Homo sapiens: one gene and its partners. The protein of the gene in region 2 purifies or fractionates together with the protein of the main gene of each other region. This does not show direct contact. Each region holds a gene or a part of one and is shown on either strand. Other genes may lie near its edges.

Evidence for each region. Proteins that work in one complex are often made in the same cells at the same time.
Region 1: the proteins of THUMPD3 (region 2) and TSEN2 purify together in Homo sapiens (co-immunoprecipitation; 2 studies listed by BioGRID and IntAct, with this or other methods). This does not show direct contact.
Region 3: the proteins of THUMPD3 (region 2) and EDRF1 purify together in Homo sapiens (affinity purification with mass spectrometry; 2 studies listed by BioGRID and IntAct, with this or other methods). This does not show direct contact.

Annotation. Positions count from the first base shown.
Region 1 is NC_000003.12:12,515,460-12,522,486, reverse strand, and holds part of TSEN2 (tRNA-splicing endonuclease subunit Sen2), read right to left. Parts: intron 5,877-7,027; coding exon 5,826-5,876; intron 3,429-5,825; coding exon 3,290-3,428; intron 1-3,289.
Region 2 is NC_000003.12:9,366,047-9,373,073, forward strand, and holds part of THUMPD3 (tRNA (guanine(6)-N(2))-methyltransferase THUMP3), read left to right. Parts: intron 1-861; coding exon 862-939; intron 940-5,013; coding exon 5,014-5,490; intron 5,491-7,027. UniProt on the Homo sapiens protein: Catalytic subunit of the THUMPD3-TRM112 methyltransferase complex, that specifically mediates the S-adenosyl-L-methionine-dependent N(2)-methylation of guanosine nucleotide at position 6 (m2G6) in tRNAs.
Region 3 is NC_000010.11:125,736,689-125,743,715, reverse strand, and holds part of EDRF1 (erythroid differentiation-related factor 1), read right to left. Parts: intron 5,799-7,027; coding exon 5,727-5,798; intron 5,422-5,726; coding exon 5,271-5,421; intron 3,254-5,270; coding exon 3,065-3,253; intron 2,716-3,064; coding exon 2,515-2,715; intron 1,497-2,514; coding exon of another isoform or gene 1,477-1,496; exon of another isoform or gene 802-1,476; intron 659-801; coding exon 440-658; intron 1-439. UniProt on the Homo sapiens protein: Transcription factor involved in erythroid differentiation. Involved in transcriptional activation of the globin gene.

The sequences.
Region 1 (7,027 bases), 3.1 Mb from region 2:
AACCTTTGCTTATGCAGAGAATGTGAAGACACTTTTAACACTGATGCTGGCCCAGTCTGACTCTGTGTGTGGGTCAGAGACCTGGTCCCACATTAATTGTACAATTAATGTATTAATTGTACATCTGTTTCTAGATGATATGTCCCAGTGAGGGCAAAGGCCTCCAGGGGAGTTGTAAACTGAGTAGTTTATCTTTTTTGTTTTCAAAATTCTATTTATCTGTCCATCCATCTATCCATCTGTCCAACCATCCTTATAAGGCAGAATATCTTTAAATTAAGGAAGCTTCCCCTATGCATCATCCAAAGTATAACTTGATCATTAAAATAAAGTTGCAGACAAAAGAACCACAGTATGAGATTAAGAACATTAATAAAATGAACAATTATAACAATACACTATAATGAAAGTTATGAGAATCTGATCTCTCAAAATATCTTAATTTTTATTTTTTATTTTTATTTTTTATTATTATTTTTTGAGACAGTCTCACTCTGTTGCCTAGGCTGGAGTGCAGTAGCGCAATCGGCTCACTGCAAGCTCCGCCTCCTGGGTTCACGCCATTCTCCTGCCTCAGCCTCCTGAGTAGCTGGGACTACAGGCACCTGCCACCACGTCTGGCTAATTTTTTGTATTTTTAGTAGAGATGGGGTTTCACCGTGTTAGCCAGGATGGTCTCGATCTCCTGACCTCATGATCAGCCCGCCTCAGCCTCCCAAAGTGTTGGGATTACAGGCGTGAGCCACCGCGCCCAGCCTATTTTTATTTTTTTTTAAGAGACTCTTACTCTCTTGTGCAGGCTGGAGTGCAGTGGTGTGATCTTGGCTCACTGCAACCTCTGCCTCCCAAGTTCAAGAGATTCTCGTGCCTTAGCCTCCCAAGTAGCTCAGATTACAGGCATGCACCACCACACCCAGCTAATTTCTGTATTTGTGCTAGACACAGGGTTTCACCACGTTGGCAAGGCTGGTCTCAAACTCCTGACCTCAGGTGACCCACCTGCCTCGGCCTCCCAAAGTGCTGAGAATCCAGGCGTGAGCCACTGTGCCCAGCAGATATCTGAATCTTTTTGACTACAGTTGACCTTGGGTAGCCTTGACTCTGCTTCTTCTTACAGTGCTTATCTGTTGCAGAAACTACGTCATGTAGTTATTTGCTTGTGTGTCTCCCCCATCCCCCTAGAATGTAAACTCCATGAAGGCAGCTCTGTTTGTCCTGTTCACTTCTGTATTCTTGATGCCTCAAACAGTACCTGGCCCACAGCAGACCTTTAGTCATTATCTGCTGAATGAGGAACTCACCTACTCCAGACCCTCACTTTAAGATTGGGGGATGCAGTGGAATACTAGGCAGCCACAAAAATGGACAAGATCGTGTCTTTTGTGAGAACATGGATGGAGCTGGAGGCTGTTATCCTTAGCAAACTAACACAGGAACAGACAACCAAATACCACATATTCTTACTTGTAAGTGGGAATTAAATGAAGAGAACTTATGAACACAAAGAAGGGAACAACAGACGCTGGGGTCTACCTGAGGGTGAAGAGAGGGAGGAGGGAGAGGAGCAGAAAAGATAACTACTGGGTACTAGGCCTAGTACCTGGGTGATCAAATAATCTGTACAACAAACCCCTGTCACATGAATTTACCCATGTAACAAACCTGCACATGTACCCTTGAACCTAAAAATTTTTTTTTTTTGAGGTGGAGTCTCTGTCACCCAGGCTGGAGTGTAGTGGCGTGATCTCAGCTCACTACAACCTCTGCCTCCCGGGATCAAGCAATTTTCCTGCCTCAGCCTCCCAAATAGCTGGGATTACAAGTGCCTGCTACCACGCCCAGCTAATTTTTGTATTTTTAGTAGAAACGGGGTTTCACCATGTTGGTCAGGCTGGTCTCAAACTCCTGACCTCAAGCGATCTGCCCGCCTCGGCCTCCCAAAGTGCTGGGATTACAGGCGTGAGCCACCGCACCTGGCCCTAAATTTAAAGTTAAAAAAATTAAATAAGTAAAATATTGATTTAATTAAAAAGAAAAGATCAAGGGAGGCAGTACTGTCAGACATTTCTAAAAGCGTGGGCTTCAGAATTCAAAGTGCAGCTTTGCAAGTTACTGGCCCTGGAAACTATTATGGGCAATGACCTACTTTTTCTAAACTGTAGTCTCCCTATCAGAAAATGAAGACAATACGGCCGGCATGGTGGCTCACACCTATAATCCCAGCACTTTGGGAAGCTGAAGTGGGCAGATGACGAGCTCAGGAGATCGAGACCATCCTGGCTGGCACGGGGAAACCTTGTCTGTACTAACAATACAAAAAATTAGCCGGGTGTGATGGCGGGCGCCTGTATTCCCAGCTACTCGGGAGGCTGAGGCAGGAGAACGGCGTGAACCCATGGGGTGGAGGTTGCAGTGAGCCAAGATTGTGCCACTGGCACTCCAGCCTGGGCAACAGGGCGAGACTCCGTCTCAAAAAAAAAAAAAGACAGTAAGCGTCTCCACTGCATAGGACTACTGTAAGGATTAAACAAGATGATGAATGTAAAATACTTAGTAAAATGCTTGGCACATGGCAAGTGCTCAATGATGGCTGTGGCGATTATTACAATTATATGATTGTTCTCACTTGGCAGATGAGGCCACTGAGGCCCGGGGATAAGGGACTCTCCCAAATTACCCGATCTCATGGCTAGAGACGTGGGGGTGGGTGCTATAGAATGCTTTTTCTTTTTTTTTCCTTTTGAGACGGAGTCTTGCCCTGTCGTCCAGGTGGGGTGCAATGGCGCGATCTCGGCTCACTGCAAGTTCTGCCTCCCGGGTTCACGCCATTCTCCTGCCTCAGCCTCCCGAGTAGCTGGGACTACAGACACCCGCTACCACGCCCAGCTAATTTTTTATATTTTTTAGTAGAGAAGGGGTTTCACTTTGTTAGTCAGGATGGTCTCGATCTCCTGACCTCGTGATCCACCCACCTTGGCCTCCCAAAGTGCTGGGATTACATGCGTAAGCCACGGCGCTCAGCCAGAACGCTTTTCTAAGATCATAGAGCAAACAAGAGGGAAAGCCTGAACTGGCGTTGCAAGCTTCTACTCCTAGGCCTTCTCCCTAGACTGCCTTTTCTCTTTTTGCACTTACCCTTAACCCAATCCAAATATCCAATAATCTTATCTAAACCCAAAGGATACCTTCTTAGAAAACATCATCAACAGCACACAAGATCAATTTGATATTCTAGGGTGAATCTGATATAAACTCTATTCTCACACACACCACGCCAAGAATTACTTACGTAAATCTGTCCCGTACTTGAGTCCCACTTTGGGCACCCAGCCCTTGCTTCGAAAGTAATGGTAGGCCATGTAGGTGGTTCTGAACGTGGGCTGAACTACAGTGAAAGCTTTCCAGAGCTTCACTATCGTTAAAGGCTCCTAAAGTTATTTACAAAAAAACAAAAAGCATTACTATGTATGCATTCACTCTCCGTTCAGCCAGGGCACCAACATCTATACTAAGTGTGGAGCTGAAGCAGTGAAGAAAATGCAGTTCCCCCAGCAGAGCAATTTATTTATTTTATTTTTGAGACAGAGTCTCGCTCTGTCACCCAGGCCGGAGTGCAGTGGCGTGATCTCGGTTCACTCCCAGCAGAGCAATTTAGCAAGAAGGTCTGGTCCTGCCCTGTCCAGTGGGGCAGCTGCCAGCCATACATAGCTAGTCTGAACTGAGAGTGGCTCTAAGTGTAAAATATACACTGACTTCCTACTCAGTATGAAAAAAAAAAAAAAGAGAGAATATAAACTATTTCAATATCTTTGAATAAGTTGGGTTAAATAAACTGTGTAATACTGTATTAAAATACCACCTGCTTTTTAAAAAATGTTTTTAATGTGGTTACCAGAAAATCTGAAATTATACACATGGCTCCCATCTGAGGCTCTCACTGTCCTTCTATTGCACAGCACTGCTCCAGAGGACTTAGAAAAGGCAGCATTTGAGCATGACAAGTAGTGAGGGAAAAGGACTGGAGGGGGTGGTGGTGGGCTGGGAAGGACATTCCAGGCAGAGGAAGCAGTGCATGCAGGGGGCTCACTGTAACAAGCCCACCAAGGCTGGAGCACAGTTCGTGACAACATTTCACAGACCCTTAGTGAGTGGCTACTCTATGTCAGCTCATGTTCAGAAGAACAAAAAACACTTTTATAGTAAAACTTAAAAACAAACAAACAAACCTCCATTTAGTGTTTGAAACTAGAGAATTTGTTATCTGATGGCACAAACTAATAATTAACTGCTTAAAAGACAATTTTGTTTTTAATGTGGGAGTCAAAGAGAATGAGAATAGTTTGGTCTAGAGAATATTCTGATGTATCATTACCAAAAATACAATGACAACAAAATAACTAGGTAAGTTTGGAAAATTTTTGCTTTATTTCAGTAGTTACTGAAACAATCAAGTCTTCAGCTGATTTAAGGCTCAGTCACTCAGTGAGACTGGCTCAGTTTGTCCCAGCCTAAGATTATAATACAATAGACTAGAGTTGTTTTTTTTTTGCAGTTGTTCCTAATGCAAAAATTCCATACCTGTGTGACCTTGTGACCCCAATGTGAGTAACAAGCAACAGCCTTATAGAGAAGGCTGAATTTCCAACACAGCCCAGTGTTGTTCAGATGTTGAGGCTTTTATGTCACAGCTGTAACGTTCTGACACATTTCAGCTAAGGCCCGCGAGAGGAAGCAGGGTGGGGCTAAGAATTGCCACCATTTGGGAAAATGAGCCATTTGTCAGGCAGACATTGCTTCCAAACGGCTGGAATACCCATGAACGGTATTTATGCAATCAGAATTTGATGACTGATTAAATTATGTGCTCCCAAGAGCCAAACAGAATATACCTTATCTGCTCCATTTACTGTTCTGTTTACTTTTCTCTTTTAAATTTTATTTGAATTATTTTACAATTATCTCCCTTCCAAAGGCAGCAGGCAACAACAGCACAAAGTCATGGGCTTTGGAGTTACTTGGACATAGGTTCGAATATTTATTCTAACCAGACTAGCTGTGTGACTTTGGGTACATTATTTATTTTCTCTGAGCCTCAGTTACCTTATCTGCAAATTCTTTTTTTTTTTTTTGAGACAGAGTCTCGGTCTGTCGCCCAGGCTGGAGAGCAGTGGCGCTATCTCGGCTCATTGCAACCTCCACCTCCCAGGTTCATGCCATTCTCCTGCCTCAGCCTCTTGATTAGCTGGAACTACAGGCGCATGCCAACACGCCCGGCTAATTTTTTGTATTTTTTTAGTAGAGACAGGGTTTCACCATGTTAGCCAGGATAGCCAGGATGGTCTCGATCTCCTGACCTTGTGATCTGCCCGCCTCGGCCCCCCAGTGTGCTGGGATTACAGGCGTGAGCCACCGGGCCCGGCCCCTTATCTGCAAATTCTAACCAGGTGGAGATAAGGACTGGAAATATTGCGTGTAAAGTACCTAAAATATAGCTTTTACCATAGTAGGTGCCAAATACGGGTAACTTTTATTTTTGTTAATTTTTAATACTGTTCTGACACAGATTTCCTAATCATTATCCAGTACAAGATACTGTACTTCTCCTAGTTTTGAGGAATGAAATGCAATCTAAAAGGGTCAAAGATGCCTTTTGCTCGAACAGTCCCACCTCAGGACCCAAATCCAAAACTTTAGAGAAAAATTCAATTCCTATTTTATTCAGTAAGAGTAGAAACATTTGTATTAATGCAATATAGAAATTAGTACAACCTGCTTTTAACAACAGGGAAATTTTAAGTGGGTTGTATGTAAACAAAGCATCTTACCTTCTCATAGTAAATACTTAAACATCCCAGAGCATAGACCAAGAAAAAGGCCTGAAAATACAGCAAGCAGAAAATGCTCATTACAAATAGTTTCACATTCTTGTGAAACCATTTTACAGACTGATCTCTTTTCACCTCAAATACAAATGCTCTTAAGTCATCATCAAAAAGGTCACACACACACACACACACACACACACACACACACACACACATATATTTTGTTTGTTTGTTTTTGAAACGGAGTCTCACTCTGTCGTCCAGGCTGGAGTGCGGTGGCACATCTCCGCTCACTGCAAGCTCCGCCTCCTGGGTTCACACCATTCTCCTGCCTCAGCCTCCCGAGTAGCTGGGACTACAGGCGCCCGCCGCCACGCCCGGCTAATTTTTTGTATTTTTTTCAGTAGAGACGGGTTTCACAGTGTTAGCCAGGATGGTCTCGATCTCCTGACCTCATGATCCACCTGCCTCGGCCTCCCAAAGTGCTGGGATTACAGGTGTGAGCCACCACACCTGGCCAAAAGTCACATATTTTTAATATAAATGGTTCATTCAAATGTCTTAGATTTTTTTAAAAATCTAAGAAAATACAAATGTTACAAACTGGCTTAAATCAATAAAAATAAAAGATTTTTATGAATGTTTCCATATTTATTCCCTAAAAAACCTATATAACTGAAGAATGATGTTAACAGCTATAGCAATAGAAACTGTTGCTCATTGGAGTTTCTCCCTGTAAAATTAAATAACCATATTTAAATTGAGAAAAATATATCAACAAAAAAAAAAGGTGTGAAAAGTGTGGGGCAGTGCTGATTTTGCTTACCTGACAAAATACTAGTTTCCCAGTCATCTTTGGTGAAGTGATTTTCTAGAACCCTATGTTTGCACTGACCTCACATAATGATATATTTTACTGTGTGGGGGGAGGCTGTAGGAATGGCAAAGAAAATTGGCTCCAGTTGAATATAGTCACACTTAAATGGAAATGAAAATGGCTTTCTGTTAAAGTAATACACTGCCAAACACTGACACCACCCAAAGAGCCATGTGTTGTTGGCTTTGCCTGTCCAGGGCGCTTAGGGTCTACAGATACCACTGAAGGGATTCCCATGAGATTGGTGCAGAGCAGGTAGTGACCAAATGGTAGCCAGTGGTAAAATGGGGTCACATTTCTTTTTAAATATGAAGGTGAAAAATTA
Region 2 (7,027 bases):
GAGGATTGAATTCACCAGAAAGAATACTGTTCAACTTAAGAAATTCTCTAAGTATCTCAGTATTTATTTACTTCAGCATATAGCAGATGTTTAACCTTTGGTGATGAAACATAAAAGAGATTTTCCTTTTAATTTGCATCAAAAATTCTTGCTCAGAAGTAATTAGGACTCACTCAAGGTAAAAAGTGAAGGTCAGAAAACTGCAATCTCACTATCATAAAGCTGATATATCTCATTACCACATAAGCAGTGAGAGGGCAAGGATTGTTGTCTATTTTTTTTTCCACCAATATATCCCACGCTCTTAGTGTCTGGCATATAGTAGGTACCCAGAAAATATCTGTGGGATGAATTGGTAAGCAAATGTTTTCCATCCAATATTTTAGCCAATACCCTCAGCAGCTTTGTGAAGATAGGCACTATTATTATCCTCATTAATCATTAGGCTTAGGACACATAAATAATTTCCCCAGGGCCACTCAGCTAGTAATCACAGAACTGGAGCTCAAATCCCCTGCTTTTAACCATTGCAGCATACAGTGTACCCTAGAAAGTCATCGAGGAAATATGATACAGCCCACCTGAGTGGCTTCACCTTTCTCTTCTCCCACAAAAGACGTGTTGCCCACAAAACACTTCATGCTTCTCTCTTTCCATCTGCCCTTTTTCCCTTTCTCTAGGGGAAAGCTGATTAGTAACCAAAGAGATGAGAAACTAGGGAGATGGGACATTTTAAAAATACAAAATATAGTTAGTAGCTGCTTTAAAACTATCATTCCTAATTTTTTAAATACTTAATTGTTGATAGCTTGTGCTGTTCAAAAGCTTTCTCAGAAATGTGTTTCTTTTTTTTTCACCCAGGTTCATTGTCTGAGATCAGTTGATAACTTATTTGTGGTGGTTCAGGAGTTTCAAGATTACCAGTTCAAACAAACAAAGGTGAGCTATCCTAAACATGGTGGCTGATTTTTGGCTGTCTTCCACAAAGAGATTATTTCCATTTTTCATAGTCTGTGAAAGTTTAGCATTACTGTAGTCTTTGTAATAGAGAATACTGGGAGGCTTTTACAGTAAAATCTAGAGTTTTGCTGACAGTCTATCCCAAAAGATGTTTTTTGAAAATTAGTATTGAAAACCATTAAAGTTTATAAGAAAGAAGAAAACACCTTGTTTTACTTGTAAGAGATATAAACCTTAGATTTGCTTTGCTTTTACATATATTTAGTTCCAAAAGAGAATTGCTTCCAGAACATGAACCAAAGAACAAGTGACAGTTTGTGTCTTCTACAAATAACACTTCCTCACCATCCTGCTTTTGCTCTGCTTTCTTCTCTTTCTTCATTTTTTGAAATAAAGCCAAAATAACATCTAAATACTCCTTCAGTTGTTAGGACAACAGCTTTGTCTCCAATATGTATTTAGCATCTGAATCCTAAATATTCAGCTGCTGCCTAAGCTGAAGGTTGAAAATAGATTGCAGCAAGGCTTTAGGTTTTTTCCACACTGCTTTTTGGTTAGGTTTCTAGAGTTAACCGCTTAAAAACATTTTTCTATCAGTTTTACGTATCTTAGAAATAATCTTTTTAAAAACAACTGTGATACGCTACCTAATTGTCTAACTTTTATTTATTGGCAAGCATGTTGATTTCCAAAACGTTATTCAAAAACGAGTCAAAGTTGTATGAACCCTCAGCCTAGAAAACAATAAGACCAGACCTAAAAGAAGTCAGACTTAAGGGCCTGGCGTGGTGGCTCACACCTGTAATCCCAGCACTTTGGGAGGCCGAGGCGGGTGGATCATGAGGTCAGGAGATCGAGACCATCCTGGCTAACACGGTGAAACCCCGTCTCTACTAAAAATATAAAAAATTAGCCGGGCGTAGTGGTGGGCGCCTGTAGTCCCAGCTACTCAGGAGGCTGAGGCAGGAGAATGGCGTGAACCCGGGAGGCGGAGCTGGCAGTGAGCAGAGATCACACCACTGCACTCCAGCCTGGGCGACAGAGCGAGACTCCATCTCAAAAAAAAAAGTCAGACTGAAAATAGATAAAAATTGTATTAAGTAAAAATCTAACTTTTAGAAAAGCTTAAAGCAATTCTAATGAGTTCTCTTAAGTATTCAGATGATAATCATGAATTTATTAGTCCCCACCCCCCTCTTTTAAAAAATATTGAGATGGGGTCTCACTATGTTGCCCAGGCTGGTCTCAAACTTCTGGGCTCAAGTGATCCTCCCACTTAAGCCTCCCAAAGTGCTGGGATTACAGGTGTAAGCCATTGCACCTGGCCCCCATTCCCCACCTCCACCCGCGCATATTTTTTTTTTTTTTTTTTTTGAGACAGAGTCTTGCTCTGTTGCCTAGGCTGGAGTGCAGTGGCACAATCTCAGCCTACTGCAACCTCTGCCACCTGGGTTCAAGCGATTCTCCTGCCTCAGCCTCCCGAGTAGCTGGGACTATAGGCATATGCCACCATGCCCGGCTAATTTTTGTATTTTTAGTAGAGACGGGGTTTCAGCATCTTGGCCAGGCTGGTCTTGAACTCCTGACCTCGTGATCCACCTGTCTTGGCCTCTCAAAGTGCTGGGGTTACAGGCGTAAGCCACCGCGCCTGGCCTCCATCTGCCTTTTTAAAAGTATGAACAAATCTGTGATTTATATGGGTTTTTAAAGACTAGTTAATACATGTATTTGGAGCAAACTTGTAAAGACTGAATGGATATAGAGTGAAAAGTAAGTCTTTGTTCCTATATCCTCATGCTATGCAGCTCCCTCCCTGGAGGCAACAACTGTTAGCAATTTCTTGGGTATTATTCTGGAGATATTTTACGAATAAATGTATTTTATTTACACAAATGAAAGCATAGCATACATACTTTTCTGCGCTATGCTTTTTTTTCATATACAAGTTGAGTATCCCTTATCTGAAATACTCGGGACCAGAAATGTTTTGGATTTTTGTTTGTTTGTTTTTTGAAATATTCTGGGTTGGGCATGGTGGCTCACACCTGTAATCCCAGCACTTTGGGAAGCCAAAGCAGGTGAATCATGAGGTCAGGAGTTTGAGAGCAGCATGGCCAAGGTGGTGAAACACCATCTCTACTAAAAATACAAAAATTAGCCGGGTGCGGTGGCGGGCTTCTGTAATTCCAGCTACTCGGGAGGCTGAGGCAGGAGAATCACTTGAACCCGGGAGGCAGAAGTTGCAGTGAGCCGAGATCACGCCACTGCACTCTAGTCTGGGCAACAGAGCAAGACTCCGTCTCAAAAAAAAAAAAAAAAAAAAAAAAGAAAGAAATACTCTGAGGGTGGAACCTATGTATAAATAAATCCAAGATTCATTTGTTTCATATATACGTTATACGTATAGCTTGACGGTAATTTTATATGATTTTTAAAATAATTTATACATGAAACAAAGTTTGTGTACACTGAACCATCAGAAAGCAAAGGTGTCACTATCTCAGCTACCTGTGTGGCATCATGTTGGCACTTCAAAAAAATTTTAGGTTTTGGATTTTGGACTTTGAGATTAGGAATGTTCAACCTATATGTTGGAGATCCTGGCAGTATCATTGCTGGAATTGGCTGCGTATACTCCATTGTTTGGCTGTATAATAATTTAACCAGTCCCATTTTAGGGCATGAGGGTTTTTCACATTCTTTTGCTATTACAGTGGTGCAACAAATACACTATGTAAATTCTTGTACATATTCAAACTGAGTGTCATCTTTGTGTTTATCCCATTGATACTTATTGATAATGACAACTGTTTAGTCTTAGTTTTGTCATGCTCATACTTTTTGTTTTTTCTTAATTTGAAAAATCTTTACATTATGTCTTTACTTTTTTCATATGCCTGTGTTTTCTAATAGTTTGGAAGGTTTATGTGTGTGTGTTCTAGCTGTTACCTTTATAACTACAATTTGATATTATCTACCTTATCTACCATATATACACGGTATTTTTTGAATCCCTGCTAAAAGCAATGATGAAATTGGCATATTTATACTTTTTTCCTTTATTTTTCAGTTATTTTTCTTAGTGTTCACCCTTAAACTTTTAAATATACTTACATTTTATTTATCAGCTTTAACTTCTATCCTTTGACCTCTGGGTGTAAGAGATGAGGGTATCAGTATGCCCATTTACATGCCAGTTTGTAACATTTACCTTCTGCTTTATAATCACAATCCCTACACTTGTTTTCATTTTAGTGATATAATTAAATAGATTATAGGCACATTATTTGTCCTTTTGTTATAATTTGTATCTGTTGAATGGCATGAGTTCAGAAATGTTTGTCTTTCACCTTTATATTTGGCTGATAGTTTGGGTATAAAATTTGGAGTTAGGCTTTCTTTCCTTAAGAATATTGTAGTCAGTGTTCATTCTCTTTTGTAAAAGATTTATTTTTTTAGACAAGATCTTGCTCTGTTGTCTAAGCTGGAGTGCATTGGCGTGATCATAGCTCATTGGAGCCTTGACCTCCCAGGCTCAAGCAGTCCTCCCATCTCAGCTTCCTGAGTAGCTGGGACTACAGGCACGTGCCACCATGCCCAGTTAATTTTTGTATTTTTTTGTGGAGACAGAGTTTTGCCATGTTGCCCAGTCTGGTCTCAAACTCCTAAGTTCAAGTGATCCACTTGCTTCAGCTTCCTAAAGTGCTGGGATTACAGGCATGAGCCACCATATCCAGCCCAGACTTTTTTTCTTGTCATTATTTCCCAAACAATACAGTATAACAACTATTTCCATAGCATTTACATTGTATCAGGTATCATAGGTAAGATAGAGATGATTTAAGTTACTCTTGAGAGGATGTGTGTAGGTCATATGTAGACACTATACCATTTTATATGAGGGACTTTTGAGCATCTTTGGGTTTTGGTGTCTTTGGCGGTCCTGGAACCAGTGTCCCCCACGGATACCAACTGTCCATAAGCAAAGTAGAGGTTTATTTGTTTGATTATAGTGGTGAGAAATGAATGAATTTCTTTCTCTGTCCTTTACAGGAAGAAGTTCTAAAGGATTTTGAAGACTTGGCTGGAAAACTCCCATGGTCAAACCCCTTAAAAGTGTGGAAAATTAATGCCAGTTTTAAAAAGAAAAAAGCAAAGCGCAAAAAGATAAATCAGAATTCAAGTAAAGAGAAGATTAATAATGGACAAGAAGTCAAAATCGATCAGAGAAATGTTAAAAAAGAGTTCACTAGCCATGCTTTAGATTCTCATATCTTAGATTATTATGAAAATCCAGCCATCAAAGAGGATGTATCAACATTAATAGGTGATGATTTGGCATCTTGCAAAGATGAGACTGATGAAAGCTCAAAAGAAGAAACTGAGCCTCAAGTGCTGAAGTTTAGAGTCACATGCAACAGGGCAGGAGAGAAACATTGCTTTACCTCAAATGAGGCTGCAAGAGATTTTGGGGGTGCTGTTCAAGATTATTTTAAGTGGAAGGCCGACATGACCAACTTTGATGTGGAGGTAGGTATAGGCTCTGACTGTGGTGATTGAAGAATGCTGTCACAGATTTGTAGAATTTCCAGACTAACCCAATGTTATGCACAATTAAACTGAGGAAATAGTAGGGTGTGGTTAAGAAGAGCATAGGCTATGGAGACAGATTTAGATCCAAATTTTAACTCCACAACTGTATAACTTTGGACTAGATAGTCTCTGAGCCTCTGTTTCAAATGGAGCCAATAATATTATGTACCTTTAAGGTTATCCTGAAGGATAAATGAGGTACATTTAAAATATTTGGTGCAATACCTTGCATACACTAAGTGCTCCATAGATGGAAGCCATCAAGGTTGAGTTGTCTGTTTTCTTTTTCTTTTTCGAGACAGAGTCTTGCTCTGTCACCCAGGCTAGAGTGCAGTGGTACGATCTCAGCTCACTGCAGCCTCCACCTTCCTGGTTCAAGTGATTCTTGTGCTCAGCCTCCCAAGTAGCTGGGGCTACAGGCACATGCCACCACACCTGGCTAATTTTTGTATTTTTTAATAGACATGGGGTTTCACCCTGTTGGCCAGGCTGGTCTCAAACTCCTGTAGTGATCTGCCTGTCTTGGCCTCCCAAAGTGCTGGGATTATAGCTGCACCTGGCCTGATTTCTAATAGACTACTCTTTTACTATATTATATGGACTTTCATATTATAAAATTCAACCAGAATTAAAATAGTTATTTTGTTTTTGTGTGTCTTGGTTGCAGAGCTTTGCTACTGAAAAAATAAAATAAGGCTGGGCGCAGTGGCTCACGCCTGTAATCCCAGCACTTTGGGAGGGAGGCCGAGGCAGGTGGATCACTTGAGGTCAGGAATTTGAGACCAGCGTGGCCAATATGGTGAAACCCTGTCTCTACTAAAAATACAAAAATTGGCCCGTCATGATGGCACACTCCTGTGGTCCCAGCTACTGGGGAGGCTGAGGCAGGAGAATCACTTGAACCAGGGAGGTGGAGGTTGCAGTGAGCCAAGATCATGCCACTGCACTTCAGCGTGGGTGACAGAGCAAGACTCCATCTCCAAAAAAAAAAAAAGTGCATTTTTTAAACAAACCCTGACCTTCTCAAACCAGGACATCATTGCTAATACTCATCCTAGAGTCAGCTCTCCTCTTTCTTAAATTCTGCTAGATTTCCAAAGCCAGGTACCTCATTTTAGTATATTTACTTTCCTTGGTCTTAATCCTCTTTTATCTGGGTGATTGACATGTGAACCATAGGAACTAAAGTATTTAAGTCTCTGACACCTTAAAACATCTCTAGCAGCTGATATATTTACCAAAGAGTCAATTTCCGTTGCTTTTGGGACACTTGAATCTGGGGCAAGTCACTGATTCTAACTTTTTTGTGCATGTCAAATCAGGAGTCTAATTCCCCATTCCTTTTTTTCCTCATACACTGCCTTGCAAATGAATACGTGGCTCACACCTGTAATTCCAGTACTTTGGGAGGCCTTGGCAGGCAGATCGCTTGAGCCCAAGAATTTGAGACCAGCCTGGGCAAAATAGTGAGACC
Region 3 (7,027 bases), on a different chromosome or scaffold from region 2:
ACTTTCCCAAAAGCCTTCTAACTTATAACCTCCATAAATGTCTTATTTCCCCAGTCTCCCATTATACTTCGTCGGTACTCATCCACAGCATTTTGAGGCTTTGTGTTCCTATCTAGCTTCCCAACATGAAGAGAGAACCATATTTTAGCCAGTTACATATCCAACATAGAGCCTGGCACATGGCTGGATGTCCCATTTGCTTCTGAATTGATCAGATGGAGTGAGTACAAAAGTAAGAATGAAGAACATTGAAATAATTCATTCCAAGGGAAAATCATGTGTTCCTAATTCTATTTCTTAAGAATAATAAGAGGTTCTCTAATAGAGCACCTCTTTATGATATAAAATCAAGTGCCACAGTTCTTTGCTTGACTCATACAAAATTAGCATAATTTTCTGAGAGAACAAGCAATAGAGAGGAATCTAAAGAGATACTCACCTAGTCTCTCACTCTGTAATGCAGCAGCCTGATTCATGTAAAACACACCAATTTCATTTCTAATGTTACCCATTCTCTTTAATACTTGTACATAGTGTTCTGGATTTTGGCTTTTCAAGTCACTAAACTGCAAGATTTCATTAGCAGCCTCATAACATTTACAACTAACAGAGAGTTGACTTTCTAAGTCTGTAGACAAATCAGTTGCCCATGCAAATCCTGAAAAGAAAAAAGGGATACATCAATGCGAATCATGTGATTCCTTCTTCCTCAGTATCCAAATGAACCTGAGATTCTAAATTCTAAGTAATAAAAAATGCAATATAGTGTAAGTATACCAAGATTCAATCAATACAACAATATTTAAGTTTCATAATAAAGATCTATTTATTTATAAAATTATATTTCTTGGGATATTAATGTTGGATAAAAATATTTTCCTGCCTATGAATATCAAACAATTTCTGTGACCCAGGTTTTCCCAGGTACACTTGTTTATTAGAATGGACCTAAAGTTGTCCACTAATACAAAGTAAAGTTGCTATTTTTAACTAATGGAAATAGTTCTTGAAATAATGTCCCAATATTAACTTTAAGTCACTGAAGAGGCTGCTACAGAAGCCCTCGAAGATTAAAAATGCCATCTAGTGGGGACTAGAGTAAAAAGAATATTTAACTGAAATTGCTATGATGGGAGTAGTAAAAATACACCAAGGACTTTCCTACTACATTAAAACATGATTATTTGAGAAAGACGGAGAGAGGGGAAGAAAGGGCAAAACTATTACAAAATAACACATTTTTCCCTCTCCCCCAGTATACTCCTCTAGCTATGAATTGTCTAAAACTCTGGGAGGCAAACATCAAGTAATATTCAGTATAACAATTTAAGAGCATAATAAAACAACCCCATGAGACATTACAGAAGCACCTTCAGAAGACTCATCTTTTACTTCATTCACTGTGTTAATGGCAGCGTGGTTACACACTGTGCTGAGGTAAGAGGGAGGGATATCGCTGCTGCGGATCAGATTATTCTACTTCCCAGTTTTAAAGCCTGACAATTCCAAACAGAGTGACATATTAAGCAAGACAGGTGGCTATGAACTAACTTTAAAAACAATGATCACTTTATTTCAGCCCCAAGGAATCATTCAGAAGGTTAATTAACCTCCTTCACCAACTGTTATACCTTTCAAAAGGAAACCTATGGCTTTGTTAGCTGACTACAAGTGTTACCTAGAAGAACCTCATGAAAAGAAGAGTGTAAAAAGCTGACACAAGGCTGGGTGCAGTGGCTCGTGCCTGTAATCCCAGCACTTTGGGAGGCCAAGGTGGGAGGATCGCTTGAGTTGAGGAGTTTGAGACCAGTCTGGGGCAACGTGGTGAAACCCTGTCTCTAACAAAAATACAAAAATTAGCTAGGTGTGGTGGCGCATGTACTAGTCCCAGCTACTTGGGAGACTGAGATGGGAGGATCACTTGAACCCAGGAGGTGGAGGTTGCAGTGAGCCAAGACTGCCCCACTGCACTCCAGCCTGTGTGGCAGAGCGAGACTGTGTCTCAAAAAAATAAATAAATAAAATAAAATAAAAAGTTGACACAACTGTCTTCATATCTTACTTTATATTTAGTTCTAGTTATATAAACAGTAATTATAAAATACTTAAAAACCATTTTATACAAATACACAAGATCATGCTTAATCTTAAAATTAGGAAATGAATAAAACAGCAGGCCAGGCGTGGTGGCTCACACCTGTAATCCCAGCACCTTGGGAGGCCAAGGTGGGCTAGCCGGGCATGGTGGCGCATGCCTGTAATTCCAGCTACTTGGGAGGCTGAGGCAGGAGAATTGCTTGAACCCGGGAGGCGGAGGTTTCAGTGAGCCAAGATTGCACCATTGCACTCCAGCTTGGGCAACAAGAGCGAAACTCCGTCTCAAAAAATAAATAAATAAATACAGAGCAAATATCAAAACTCTAATATTTCTACCCCTTTTCTGAATACTCAAATAAGCATGAGCTAGACTGCACAGTCCCACTGTGAACCACGTGGTCCAAGCCTGTGGCACACCTTGGCAACTGGACTCTCTGTGAAGGCTATGCAGGATCTCCTGGTCTTCTTTTGTTTGGTAATGAAACTCTTCAAGGTGTGCTGCTCTATTATTTGCATTCTGGGCCAGCATTAGTTGGATATCACCACAAAGTGTCAAATATTGAGAGAGAAACAACAGCACTTCGGAAAGCATATTGGTGCAGAGGCAGCAATAAGTATCTGTTTAGAAAGGGAGGGAAGAAGAAAAAACACAAATGCAGAAAAAAATTAATGATCATAGGAAATATGAAGAAACTGTGTTACCAGCTGAACGCTTTGTAGCACTGTATCTATTCTGTTTATTTTAGGTCCAACAATACATATTACGGCTTCATGTAGTTCAAAGCAAAGAGATGTTAAACCACTGAGCAGAAACTAAAATAGAAGGTAACACACACAGGATTGGAAACAGTCATTTTAAAATAAAGATTTACTAGAAAAATAGGAGTAAACTTCCACTGTGATTCAGATGCCTTCTCTGTTCTCTCTTCCCAGTGCCTATTAAACATATTCATTTATAGTGGCTTACCATGGCTTTGCAAAGCTAATTTAATGTATCGTAATGCTCTTCCGTATTTCTGAAGACTCATGGCAGCATCGGACAAAACATAATAGGCCTTTGATGACTTGAGAATCAGCTGAAGTTTCATTTTATGTTGCCAAGAGCCAGGGATCATTCCAGATTGACTGGAATAATTGCCCTTCTGAAGGGAGCCCACTGTGACATGGAGAGAAAAAAAAAGACAGCACATTTCATTTGACTGTAAGTCTCATGCACAAAAAATATTTTCTGTTTCTTGATGGAAACACTCTAGACTTAGGTGACAAGACTGGTAAATACTATGCTTTACTGCTTAAATACACTGGAGTGAAATGGCCGTGTTAAAAGACTCTCACTTGGGAGTTCTAAGGCCTTCTGCTTCCCTGACATCGGCAACTCTGTCATTCTCTTCCAGTGTCACTGACATAGCTAACCTCATGAGTGACACCTGTCTCCTTTTTCCAGTCTATGTGTCAACCTGTCAAAGTTTACCTTCCTAAAGCACAGCTTAGATCAGCGTGAAAGCCTGTCCTCAAACATGAAAACGGCTTCTCCCCACTTAGCTAGTTGCATGTTTCTCAGTCTCACTTCCTACTTGTCCATCCTACTACCCATCAGCCAATGTTAAGTTACTGCTTGTCACCTATAAACATGCCTGTTTTTCCTATCTCCCATCTTAGTTTACTGTTTCCTCTACAAGGAATACTCTTTATTTAAAGTCCAGCCCATCGCTACCTTCTTTACTCAACAAATGATCATTTTTCTGCCAAGTACTGTGCCAGGCACTGGAAACTGTGACATGAAGTTATATGGCCTCTATCCTTGATAACATAAACCACAACAAAATATGTTAAGTGTAATTAACAGACAAAGAACAAAATACTGTGGAAAATTTTGCTCTGCAAATAACAAAAACACCCACCCCTTCCCCCAGCCTGAAGGTTTCTCATTTTTTAATCAGCTAGAACACAAGTCTTTCAAGGCAATGAAAGGTACTTAGTCTTCATTATGGTTTAATGTGTGTATGGATTTTTTTCCTCTGCTGATATAAGCATCATCTGTGAGTAAGAGGCATTGTGAGAAACTAAAATTAAGATGAAGTTCTTGTTCACAACCGTGTGTGTGCATGTGTGTGTAAAACCATTTAATGCTGGAACTCTGACATAAGGCAGGCTCACAGGACAAAGTGGTAAGAGAATCAAGTAATTCTGATGGAGAACAGAGGGAAACATGGAGATTCTGAGCTTGAGCAGGATTTTCAACAGGGGAGATGGAGAAGGAGACAGAAAAGGCATTTCAGAAAAAAAGAATGGCAAAAGTCCTGGTGTGATCTCCTTACTGCCTGTAGGCCGAAGCCTGGCATACCAGCAGCACTATATAAATGCTGGGGAAATAAATCTATTCCTCTCCTACCTCCACCATGTTTGTTCAGGAAAAGAAGAAGGGTCCAGAAAGCGCTTCCACTATGATTCAGATGTACTTCAAACATACAGGCTTTCTACACTTTTTTTTTTTTTAAACAATTGAAACTGATTTAAAAGGGGGAAAGAAATAAGGTTGGAAAAAGAAATACAACTTAGGTTAAAATAAGAAATTCACAACTTCTGCTTCGAAGTCCATATATTCTTCATGATGTTATATTCCTGAAGAACTAGATAATTTAAAAGTGACATTTGTAGCTTATTCAAGTACTGTGCAGTAACAACAGCCTACACTTCTATAGTGCTTATTATGTACACTGTTCTGAGCACTTTACATATATTAATCATTTAATCATTTAACAACCCTTTAAAGAAACCATTATTATCGTCTCCATTTTGAAAGAGATAAAAAGTGACTCAAAGAAGTGGAGCAACTTGCCCTCGCAAAGCCAAGATATGAAGTTAGGCAGTCTGGCTAAGTCTGTGGCTCCTACACGATCCAGCGAGAACTCCACCAGGCTGAAGCATTAGTTCCCCACTGTGGGTAACAGGAAGATGCAGGCTCCTTATGCTCTTATTAGAAATGTCCATGAAACATCAAAATTATCCTTTTTATATTTCAAATGAAAGAATACTACCCCTAATTCCAGTTCACAGGATATCTTTTTCTCAATGCCTTTCAATTAATGCCTTAATTGACATAAGTCTGCTGTTGATAAAGAACCAGTGTATTATTCTATTGAAGGCCTTATTTGCACATCAATTCAACTTACTTTTGTCCAAAAACAAGGCCATCTGCTTCTCTAGCCCCTCGGGACCCCCTCTTGAGGATTCATCTTCATATTTTAACGGGATTGGAGTGCTGGGGTCAGCTGCTGGAAGGTCGCTTTCTTTTTTGATGCTGCTATCGACAGATTTTAAACCCTGCAAAAAAAGGAAAAGCATTCACTATCTATCTAACTTCAGGTCAACTGAAAACTAAATATAAGACAGTATCTGGACTACTGAATACGTTTAGGAAAATTTCCATCTCACAAACAGACTTTCAAAAACTATGTTTGATCTGAAAGATTTGGGAAAAACAAATCTGATTTTCACTTTATGCTTAAGGAAAAAAAAATCGCAGCAGAACACAATTCAGAATAACATTTAGATACCAACAAACAAGTGTAATTTGCATAATCAAGTACAAACTTTACGAAAAAAGTGAAGACTAAACTTAAACTTACCTCTAGAACATAGCTAAGCACAAGTCTACAGCGCTCTTCTGTGTCATGGCAAACTGGAAATGCACAACTGGGCTTGAGGAACAAACATAAAATTATTAATACACTACCAATGTATTAAGGTCAACATATTGTTTTTGTTGAAGATTAAATTACTGTAAGCATTATCAACAAAAATCTTGCTTAAAAAGATCCTACAACATATATGTTGCTTTAAGTACTTACAATTTTAAATACAATTCTATTATGACAAAAAAGCAAGAACTAGAGTAGTAATGTTTTAGACAAATATAGACATCATCTAATAGGTCAGCTCCACTCATAATTAGCACCGATACTGGACAAAACACAATTAACAATTAGCGTCAATTTAGAAATAACAAGTATCACCAATATTCTCGTTGTTTAATTTATTTGCTTAATTAAGGAGCAAAAGCAGCTAGCAACCTCCAACTATGAAGGATATTATGTGTAGGGGCTTCTGTGAAGCATTTCATTTCGCTGAATCCCGTGGGGTTGGAATTACTGTTCTCATTGCACAGAAGAGAAGCATGCACAGACAGTTTAGCAATTTGTCTGAGGACACGGTGAGTGAGTGGGGAGCTGGGACCCTGGAGCTCATGCTGACTGTCCATACCACAAAGTCATTCAATGAGGATAAGGAAAGGCTAACTAAAGACATGTTTATATGAATACTAAGACTGCATTTTTTGAGTGCTTCAGATACGGAACAGAAAGTGCTATCTGTGAAAAATAGTGACACTAACTCATTACATCTTTAATTATTACCTAATTGCCCCGTAAGTCCATGGCCTAGTGTTACAATGCAGTTTTCCAGATACATGTAACTTTTGCAATCAATGATTATAACCAGAACATTTTTTCACTCCACTGTGGAAGTTCAAGCTGAAAGTGAACTAAAATTTAGATGGACAGTTAATGACTTTTTCCTGCAGTCATTTAGTCAAATATTTACTGAGCACCCATAATGTGTTCTAGACATGGGAGATAGAGGGTCTGTACCTGCAGGGAGCTTACGTTCTAGTGAAGCAAGACAAACATTAAGAACTTCAGGAACAGATAGGCTCCTTGAAGGACAAAAAAGTAGAGCATGCTTTGGCCAGAGTGGTCAGGGAACATCTCCCTGAAGAGGCAACATTTCAGTCAAGACTTAAGCCTTAAAAAAGGCAGCCATGAACAGACCTAGGGTAGGTACATTCCAAGCAGAAGCAACAGCAAATACAAAGACCCTCCAATGAGCATAATCTTGATGCTTTTGAGAGAAAAAAAACCCAGCATGGCCA